2 separate regions of the Homo sapiens genome follow, and region 2 is linked to region 1. Evidence: fine-mapped expression QTL. A gene starts in region 1. The other region holds a variant in brackets. All regions are shown on one strand. Distances are from middle to middle.

Region 1 (4,392 bases):
AGCCAGAGTCCTACCTGCTTTGTTAATTCTTGCAGTAAATACTCCTTCAGGTGGTAAAGTCAAGCAGTTCACCTGGAGAGGGCTGCTTTGCTCCTCACAGAGCTTCAACCAGGCCAACTACTAAAGAGTTAATTCACATAGTATTTAATAATAAAGAGGAACAAACAAAATAAGAAAAATTAGTTGTTTCAGTATTACCAGAGGAGATTTTTTTGAACTACACAAGGAGAATGGTATCTTCAATCTATTCTTGACTACAAGTCTCATTAATGAAGAACTATGGAAAAGAATAAGACATGCATTCATTTTATGGCAAACTACATATTGCTATCTACCTTTAGTTCAGAACATTTACATGCAGTATTTTTAATATTAAAATTAAAATGTATGATAAATGCATGTTTACAGGACTAAATTAGCTATTGTTTGCAGTAAAGCCTTTGTAAATGGAATTTCACGTTGAAATCTTAGTCTTCTGTCCCCAACTCCTTCTTTCCCTAGCTCCTCTCGTTTTCTTTCTAACACTGAAATGTGGGGGAGAAAAATGAAAAGTGCACATCAGAAGAGAGTCACTTGCTGCTTTGGTTTTACTTTCCCATTTCTTTTTACTTTCTGTTTTTGGCTTTTAAAACAAGCCTCTTCTCCACCCACTCCCACCCTCTTTGCAGAGAGCAGACTTCAAACTTCACTTCTGTTTCTAGGTCCTAAAGAGAAACAAGAGGGGGGCGGGGAACAGAAAAGAGATCAATTGAGAGTTATTCCAAAATGCAAATTAACAACAGGTTTTCTCATTTCAAAACTCCCACATTCTGCCAATCTGAAAATATCTTTTCTCCACCTCTTCTGAATGACTTAGGTCCCCAGACAGCGAAGGAATTCAAGCCACAAAGGAGGTATTATGCTGCTTACAGTTCTTAATCTGCCTCCCCGAAGCGCTGCACCAGCCTCTCAAAAGGTTCCTTCTGTAGGTTAATTGCAGGTTGGAGCTCCCAGAATAGCATTTTCTTTTAAGGATGATCGCTCATCCACCATCCCGGAACATTTCTCGAGCTACTCATTAGAGTTTAATTTCCTCGAGCCAAGTCCCTGGAGACGGTGAAACCCTCCTCCCCGCGGCGTGGACGCGGGATGCCCCTGTTCGTGCCTGGAGAGCCCGGGATTCAGCAGGGCCCCAGCGTTCCCCAGGCTGTCCCTCTCTACTGCTGCGAAAAGTGAGCGCGGTCACGAAGTGCTCCTCAGTCCTCGTGGTCATGCGACCCTTGGCCCAGGAGGTCTGCAACACTTCTTGTGTTACCTGATAATCCTCCACCCGCACAAGCACGTATTTGGGTGGGTCTGCTGCGTCCCGCGGCGGGGCTACACGCCTGCCAGAAATTCGCTTTTGTCGTTGAAAGACAGAAGGGTAGTTGGGCTCCTCGCCGTGGTCCTCTCCACCCGCATGAGGAAGGTCCTCTGCACCGGCCACCTCTTCCCGTGCAGGGTCCCCTCGAGTCCCTAACCACCTCTCTGGGTGCAGGAGAAAGAGCACTTTCTCTCTGACCCAGGACTCACGGTCCAATTCCTCCCCGGCCCGAGGTCCGAGGGCCCGATCTGCCGTTCTGTCCTCGTGGCCGCCGCCCTGGCTTCGGCTCGCCCCTGCCGTCGCGGGATTCCGGGCGCCCGGAGCTAGCGGAGCCCCGCGCCCTACCTCCCGCGGAAAAGGCCCGAGGTCCCCCAGGCTGCGGGAGGAGTCCATGGGATTCGCAGCTCCCTGAGGCCCCCGGGTCTCCATCCTGGCAAAAGGGTCATTCATTCGTTCCTTCTTTGACCGGTTCAAGCAGCAAGCGCCTGCTGAGCTCCGGAAAGCGCGGGACCACCAAGCCCTGGGTGTGGCCTCTGCTGCAGCTCCGGACTCCCAGCCGGTGAAAGCTGAAGACTAGATCAGCCCCAGGCTAACCGCGTGCGGAACCCGCCTCTTCACCCTCCGCCTCTCCCACCTGGCGGCTGTCTAGCCATTCAGAAGAAGCTTGACACAAGCCCCAGTCACTCCTCTTCTTCCTCCTACCCCTGTCCGGAGCCCTGCTCCCTTTGTCATTCGCTGATTCAGTCCCCTCTTACTTTTCACCTCTATCCTAGTTTCCCACCCACCTTTCGTTTTTCTCCGGAGCTGAGGCGCAAAGGACACCCTCGCACTGCGCCCCCACTGAAATGCCCCGAAGTATGTTTGCTTTCCAAGGACGCTCCTTGAGGTGAAGGAACAAAGAAGTTTGTGTGCATTTTAATTAGCTGATCTAATTCTGAAAAGGGTTTTTGTCCATTCCGAATCCACTCCCACCATGCTGCCAAAATAATGGAATGTAGATCAAATGGTCAGACTGAAAAGCTGAAGCCTTGGAGAAACTGGTTTTGGTTTCTTTGTCCTTCTTCCTTTAGAATGCCAGAATCTGTAGCTCTGGAGGACAATGGTCACACCTGTGTCCTCCTCCTCCTCTTCCTCCTCCTTCTTTTTTCCCGCTCTCTTTCTCTCTCCCTCTCCCCGCTCCCCCTTCCTCTTACCCCACCCCCCCACATTAGATATGGTCTCGCTCTGTAGCTCAGGATAGAGTGCAGTGGCGCAGCCTCGACTTTCCAGGCTCCCACCTCAGCCCGTCAAGTAGCCGGGACTACAGGCGCGCACCCCCATGCCCGGCTTTTATTTATTTATTTATTTATTTATTTATTTATTTATTTATTTATATTTTTCTAAGAGATGGTAGGGGTGGGGCTCTCCTATATTGCCCAGGCTGGTCTGGAACTCCTGGGCTTACGAGATACCCAGGATCCCCCACCCTACCCACACACCCACCTGGGCCTCCCAAAATTCTGGGATTACAGGCTTGAGCCACGGCCCTGGCCAGTCTTCATTTTGTGTGTAATCAACGCTTGTCTCAGGAAGGTGTAGTCTTTGATTTAAAACAAGCTATAAAACAGAAGCAAAACAAACATCCAAATGAATTTTTTCAGGACTTAAAATTGTTTGTGTTTGTGTCGTTTATAAAATTCCCTCTGCACCCACCCGTCCTCTTTAACCACAGGGGTTAAAAAAAGTTAAGTGTCTCTGGCGAGGCTTTTAGAATTTACCCATAGGCAGGCCCGCTGACCACTACTCTTTGCCTAAGGTTAACCGGGGAGGCTAGGTCATAGAAAAAGAGCTCAGTTTGTGGTTTCCAGTTCATCCTTAGCTGTTTGTTTTATTAAAAAACCCACTGATGGCTGGGTGTGGTGGTTCACACCTGTAGCCCCATCATTTTGGAAGTCTGAGGCCGGTGGATCACTTGATGCCAGGAGTTTGAGACCAGCCTGGTCAGCATGGTGAAACCCAGTCTCTACAAAAAGTACAAAAATTAGTCAGGCATGGTGGTACACACATGTAAGTAATCCCAGCTACTTGGGATGCTGAGGCACCAAATCGCTTGAACGGGAGAGGGGGAGGTTGCAGTGAGCCAAGATCATACCACTGCTCTCTAGTGTGGGTGTTAGAGCAAGAATCTGTCAAAAAAAAAAAGAAAAAGAAAAAAAAAGAAAGGAAAGAAAGAGAAATCTAAATCCTGCCTGATTTAGAAAAATGAGTGCAATGGTGAAAAATTCTGCCCATATGTAAAAAACAAAGTAGTATAGTGAGATATTTGGAAAGGGAGGACTTTTGATATCTGCCAAATCATATAAAGAAATAAAGTGATAGAGGAGGAGTGAGAAAATCTGGGTCAGACCTGGGTGATTAGAAGCCTGACCTTAGTGGGCACAGCGGCGCCTACTGGTAATCCCAGCTGCTTGGGAGATTGAGGTGGGAGGGTGTCTTGAGCCTAGGAGTTGGAATCTGGCCTGCACCATATGGTGAGACCTCTGTCTCTTCAACAACAAAAACAACCAAAAAATATACATGCCTGACCTTGGGCTGGTTTCTCCTCAATCACAATGAGCTCAAATTTTTGAGTGTCTTAGCCAAGAATTGTTCTAAGCACTCTATATATTTAAACACATTTATTCTTCACAATAAACTGTGAAAGTAGTAGTATTTCTTTGGTCTCCTTGAAATCTTTGAAGCACAAAGAGGTTAAGTGTGTGCCCAAGGTCAAACACCAATAAACAGTGGAGCCAAGATTCTAACTTATTTAAATGCTTGCTCCAAAATGACTTCTAAATTACCTTCATATTTTAAGCCTGTGACTTCATGTTCTTTTCTATTCATTTACATAACCACTAATTACTAACTATATGCTACTCTTCTAGGTGATAGAGACATCTGGAGGAACAAACCAAATTGCTTATCCTCTTAAAGATTTTATTTATTTATTTATTTACTTATTTATTTGAGACAGAGTTTCACTCTTGTTGCCCAGGCTGGAGTACAATGGCACCATCTCAGCTCACTGC
Region 2 (4,392 bases), 20 kb before region 1:
CAAATATAATTTAAAATATAGCCAGATGTGGTGGCATGCATTTGTAGTCTCAGCTACTCAAGAGATTGAAGAAAGAGGATTGTTTGAGCTCAGGAGTTTGAGGCTACAATGAGCCATGATTGCACCACTACCCTCCAGCCTGAGTGACAGAGCAAGACCCTGTCAAGGAAGGAAGGAAGGGAGGAAGGAAGGGAGGAAGGAAGGAAGGAAGGAAGGAAGGAAGGAAGGAAGGAGAAGGAAGATATAGGGGGTCTCACTTATTTGCTACAGAGACTCAGCCACAATCATCTCTTTTTTTATTTGTTTTTTTGTTAGTTTTGTTTTGTTTTTGAGATGGAGCCTCACTCTGTTGCCCAGGCTGGAGTACAGTGGCAGGATCTCGGCTCACTACAACCTCTGCCTCCCAGTCAAGCGATTCTCCTGCCTCAGACTCCCAAATAGCTGGGATTACAGGTGCATACCACCACGCTTGGCTATTTTTTGTATTTTTAGTAGATATGGGGTTTCACTATGTTGGCCAGGCTGGTCTCAAACTCTTGACCTCAGGTGATCTACCCGCCTCGGCTTTCCGAAGGGCTGGGATTACAGGTGTGAGCCACCATTCCTGGCCTCAATCATCTTTTTTGTGAAATGGAAACAACTAGCACAGTTGCTATGAGGAGGAGAAAGTCTGCACAATATCAGGATACAAATAATCACTCATAGATAAATAGACAGATAGTTTTTTATTTTTTATTTTTTTTAAACATAGGGTCACACTATGTTGCCCCAGGCTAGCCTTGGAACTTCTGGACTTGAGCGATCCTCATGCCTTAGCTTCATGAGTAGCTGGGACTACTGGTGTGCACCATCACACCCAGCCTAAAGTTTTAAAACAGAACATTTTAAAGCAGTTGTTTGCTTTTTGTAATTTGAAAAACTATACAGATTCATGTTGTAAAACAGCTAATCACCAAGATAGTATTACAAAGCCTTCTTAAAGAGGCCACTGTAGGGCCAGGCATGGCAGCTCATACCTGTAATACCAGCACTTTGGGAGGCCGAGGTGGGTGGATCACTTGAGGCCAGGGGTTCGAGACCAGCGTGGCCAACGTGGTGAACCCCATCTCTTTATGGTATTAAAAATACCGAAAAAAAAAAAAGTAGCTGAGTGTGGTGGTGCACACCTGTATTCCCAACTACTTAGAAGGCTGAGGCATGAGGATCACTCGAACATGGGAGGCAGAGCTTGCAGTGAGCTGAGATCGTGCCACTGCATTCCAGCCTGGGCAACAGAGTTAGGCTCTGTCTCAAAATAAATAAATAAATAAATAAAATTTAAAAAGAGGCAACTGTAATGAACCAAAATGAAGTAGAGAATATTGTTCTTAATTTGGTGGAGAGATTTTGTTTTTTATCATTATTTTATTTTATTTATTTTAGTTCTCAGAATATCCTTTCCCACATCACAATTAAAATTACTTTCTCTTTTGTAGAAAGTTGTTTCCCAGTATGCAGCAAGCTCTGGAAGCAGGGAAACTTGTTTTTGAGAATGTTTGGAATGGGCTTGTTTGATTTAATATCCACTATCATAGTCACTGGAGATAAAAGCCAACCTTCATAGAGCCCCCAAACCTTCCAGGAACTGTGCCAGTTTCTTTCACATGTATCCTTTCCTCTAAGGCTCAGTCTCAGATGAAGACTATTTAACTCTCATTATACAAATATAGAAAGTGGGGTTTATCAAAAGTTAAATGACATGCTGTTATCACATAGCCACTAGATGGCTAAGTAAGAATTTGTTCCCAGTTCTGAGTCCAAGGCTTGAGTTTTTTAGTAAGCACATGAATAAACATGTGGTTAGGAAAGCGAATACTCCACACTAAGCCTCAAGTCCACCTGCCACTGTTCGGCTTCCCCTTCTTCCATTTCCTTCCAGAACA[C/T]CCTGCTTCTGAGTAATTGCCAACCAAGATCATGATATGTCTTTAGAGAGTGACCTTTTTAGGAAGAAATTTAATCTCTGTTACTAATACGAACATTTGTATTTCTAGGGCACTGAGGTTATCATCTTGCTGGCTTCAGTAGCTCGAGATCAAGCACAGTGGGAAAAACCAGACACTTTTAATCCTGAGCATTTCCTCAACTCTAAGGAAAAGTTTATCAAGAGAGAAGCGTTCCTGCCCTTTCAGTGGGTAATGTATCTTACTTGAGAAAGGCGGTTTGAAAAATCTGGAGAGACTTAAGACTGTGCTAAGGTTTCGTACTTTTCCATATAGCACTAAACTTCAGAACTGGTTCTAAATTGGCTCTGGGACACTAGGCACTAAAGCAACATTTTCTAAGGGAATCTTTGAAGACTCCTTGTGGCTGAGGCTAGGGTAGAACCTCAGGAGTTTGAGGAGAAAGTTAAGCAACAGAAAGACAGTTGGCAGCAACTTTACCCCAACCAAAAAAGTTCTGCCTTAATAATATGTGTAAATAGAAGATTTTGTTGTTGTTGTTTTGTTTTGTTTTTAGGATTTCTTTGGGGAAGGTAGGTGGGAGGAAAGAGCTTTCCGCTAGTGTTAATTTTGAAATTCAGAGAACGAAATGAATTTGTTCCATAAATGTCTGAAGCCTACGAACTTGAAATAAATTCTCTGTTCCTAGCAGAGTCACAGCAAAGCTGCACCACAAGCAGTTTGTGATTTTTGGCCTTTCTGCTTATACAAACAATGGCTTAACATTCACTCCAGATATCCACTCAGTGATGGATAAACAGCAGCCACCCAAGAATAGTCTTTCTTCACCTACTGGTAACTAAGTAATAAAAGATACACAGTATAATTCAGTCTCCTGATTTTTACACACACACACACACACACACACACACACACACACACACACAAGAGGATACATGAGAAAATATTACCTGGATTAATGACTTTCAAGTAAAAAATGTAATATCACACCTGGAACAAGAATTTTAAAAAATGAAAAACAATCTGCATATAATTTGCAGTGTTATAAACTCGATGTCTCTCAACATTTCAAAACAACATTTTGTTTTTTCTAAAAAACAAAAGAAAAAGAGCCTAGAAACATAAACAATGGTCTCTGGAGTGCACGTTAACAACATCTGACACTGAGCCATCATTTTGTAAGAGAAGACATGGAGCAATAATTTTTTCATGCATAAAGTTTTTTTTTTTTTTCAGACTCTTTTCCAGACTCTTGGACTTACTGCTGTTAGTATTTGGAGGGAAGGAATTATGTTTTTCTTAACACTCCCTTTTCACTATGAACAATTCTTTTACTTTGTCTCTTGAGCTCTAATCAATATTGTATATAAGCTCTTCCTGGTTTCTTACACAACTGGACCTGGAGGCTTCTTTGTACTAAGAGACAAGTAGCAATAGTCCAGATTTTCAGAGTGGCTTATTCTCAAAGGATTTTGCTGTTTACTTCAGGAATTCTAAACTTCCCTAGTTATACTTGACCTTTTTTTTTTCTGTTTTAATCCAGAAAATCCAGTAATAATACTATTTTTATTTTAGGCAAAAATGCATACATATTCCTTTTTTTTTTTTTTTTTTTTGACAGGGTCTTCTCTGTTGCCTAGGCTGGAGTGCAGTGGCATGATCACAGTTCACTGCAGCCTCGACCTCCTAGGCTCAAGCGATCCTCCCAGTTCAGCCTCCCAAGTAGCTTGGATTACAGGTTCATGGCACCATGCCCAGTTAATTTTTGTATTTTTAGTAGAGAAAGGGTTACACCATGTTGCCCAGGCTGGTCTCAAACTCCTGGGCTCAGGTGATCTACCCACATTGGCCTTCCAAAGTGCTGGGATTACAGATGTGAGCCACCACACCCAGCTGGAAATATTCTTAAAATACAATCATCGTTAAACTGTTACAGTGAGAAAAATTAATATTATAAAACTAATTTTGTGTTTCAATCATGAGTGCCACAATCTCTTCAAATCTTCATATTCCTCTAGTGTTTAAGGCACTCTTTTCTTCAATTATTTCCTTAACATTTATTACTTACTGCATTCAGATAGAAATTTTGCGAGGCAGACGGATCACCTGAGATCAGGAGTTCGAGACCAGCTTAGCCAACATGGTGAAACCCTGTCTCTACCAAAAATACAAAAATTAGCCGGGTATGGTGGTGGGCATCTGTAATCCCAGCTACTCGGGAGGCTGAGGCCGGAGAATCACTTGAACCTGGGAGGCAGAGATTGCAGTGAGCCAAGACTGTGCCTTTACACTCCAGCCTGGGTGACAAGAGCAGAACTGCATTTCAAAAAAAAAGGTAATTAATTAAAAAAATAAATGAGATCATCCTACTGTCTTCCCTTACTCTCAAGAATAAACAATAATAATATGTAATTTATCTTATTGGATAGCTAGACTCCTGCCATAAAACTGA

Evidence for each region. PIP is the estimated chance that this variant, and not a neighbour inherited with it, causes the effect.
Region 2: its variant is fine-mapped to the expression of C6orf141 in tibial nerve (GTEx, PIP above 0.99). The same link has a PIP of 0.9 or more in skeletal muscle.

The regions. Positions count from the first base shown.
Region 1 is chr6:49,548,193-49,552,584 of GRCh38, reverse strand. C6orf141 (chromosome 6 open reading frame 141) reads right to left here and starts at 1,917. Exons shown (of 1, transcript NM_001145652.2): 1 at 490-1,917. The coding sequence starts at 1,792. The coding sequence ends at 1,058. RefSeq lists enhancers at 597-1,116, 1,133-1,202 and a silencer at 1,873-1,932.
Region 2 is chr6:49,568,316-49,572,707 of GRCh38, reverse strand. It overlaps the pseudogene CYP2AC1P. Among named protein-coding and RNA genes, the nearest start is that of C6orf141, 20 kb to the right of the region's middle. RefSeq lists a silencer at 1,778-2,072. The variant C/T (reference allele first, on the strand shown) is at 1,923.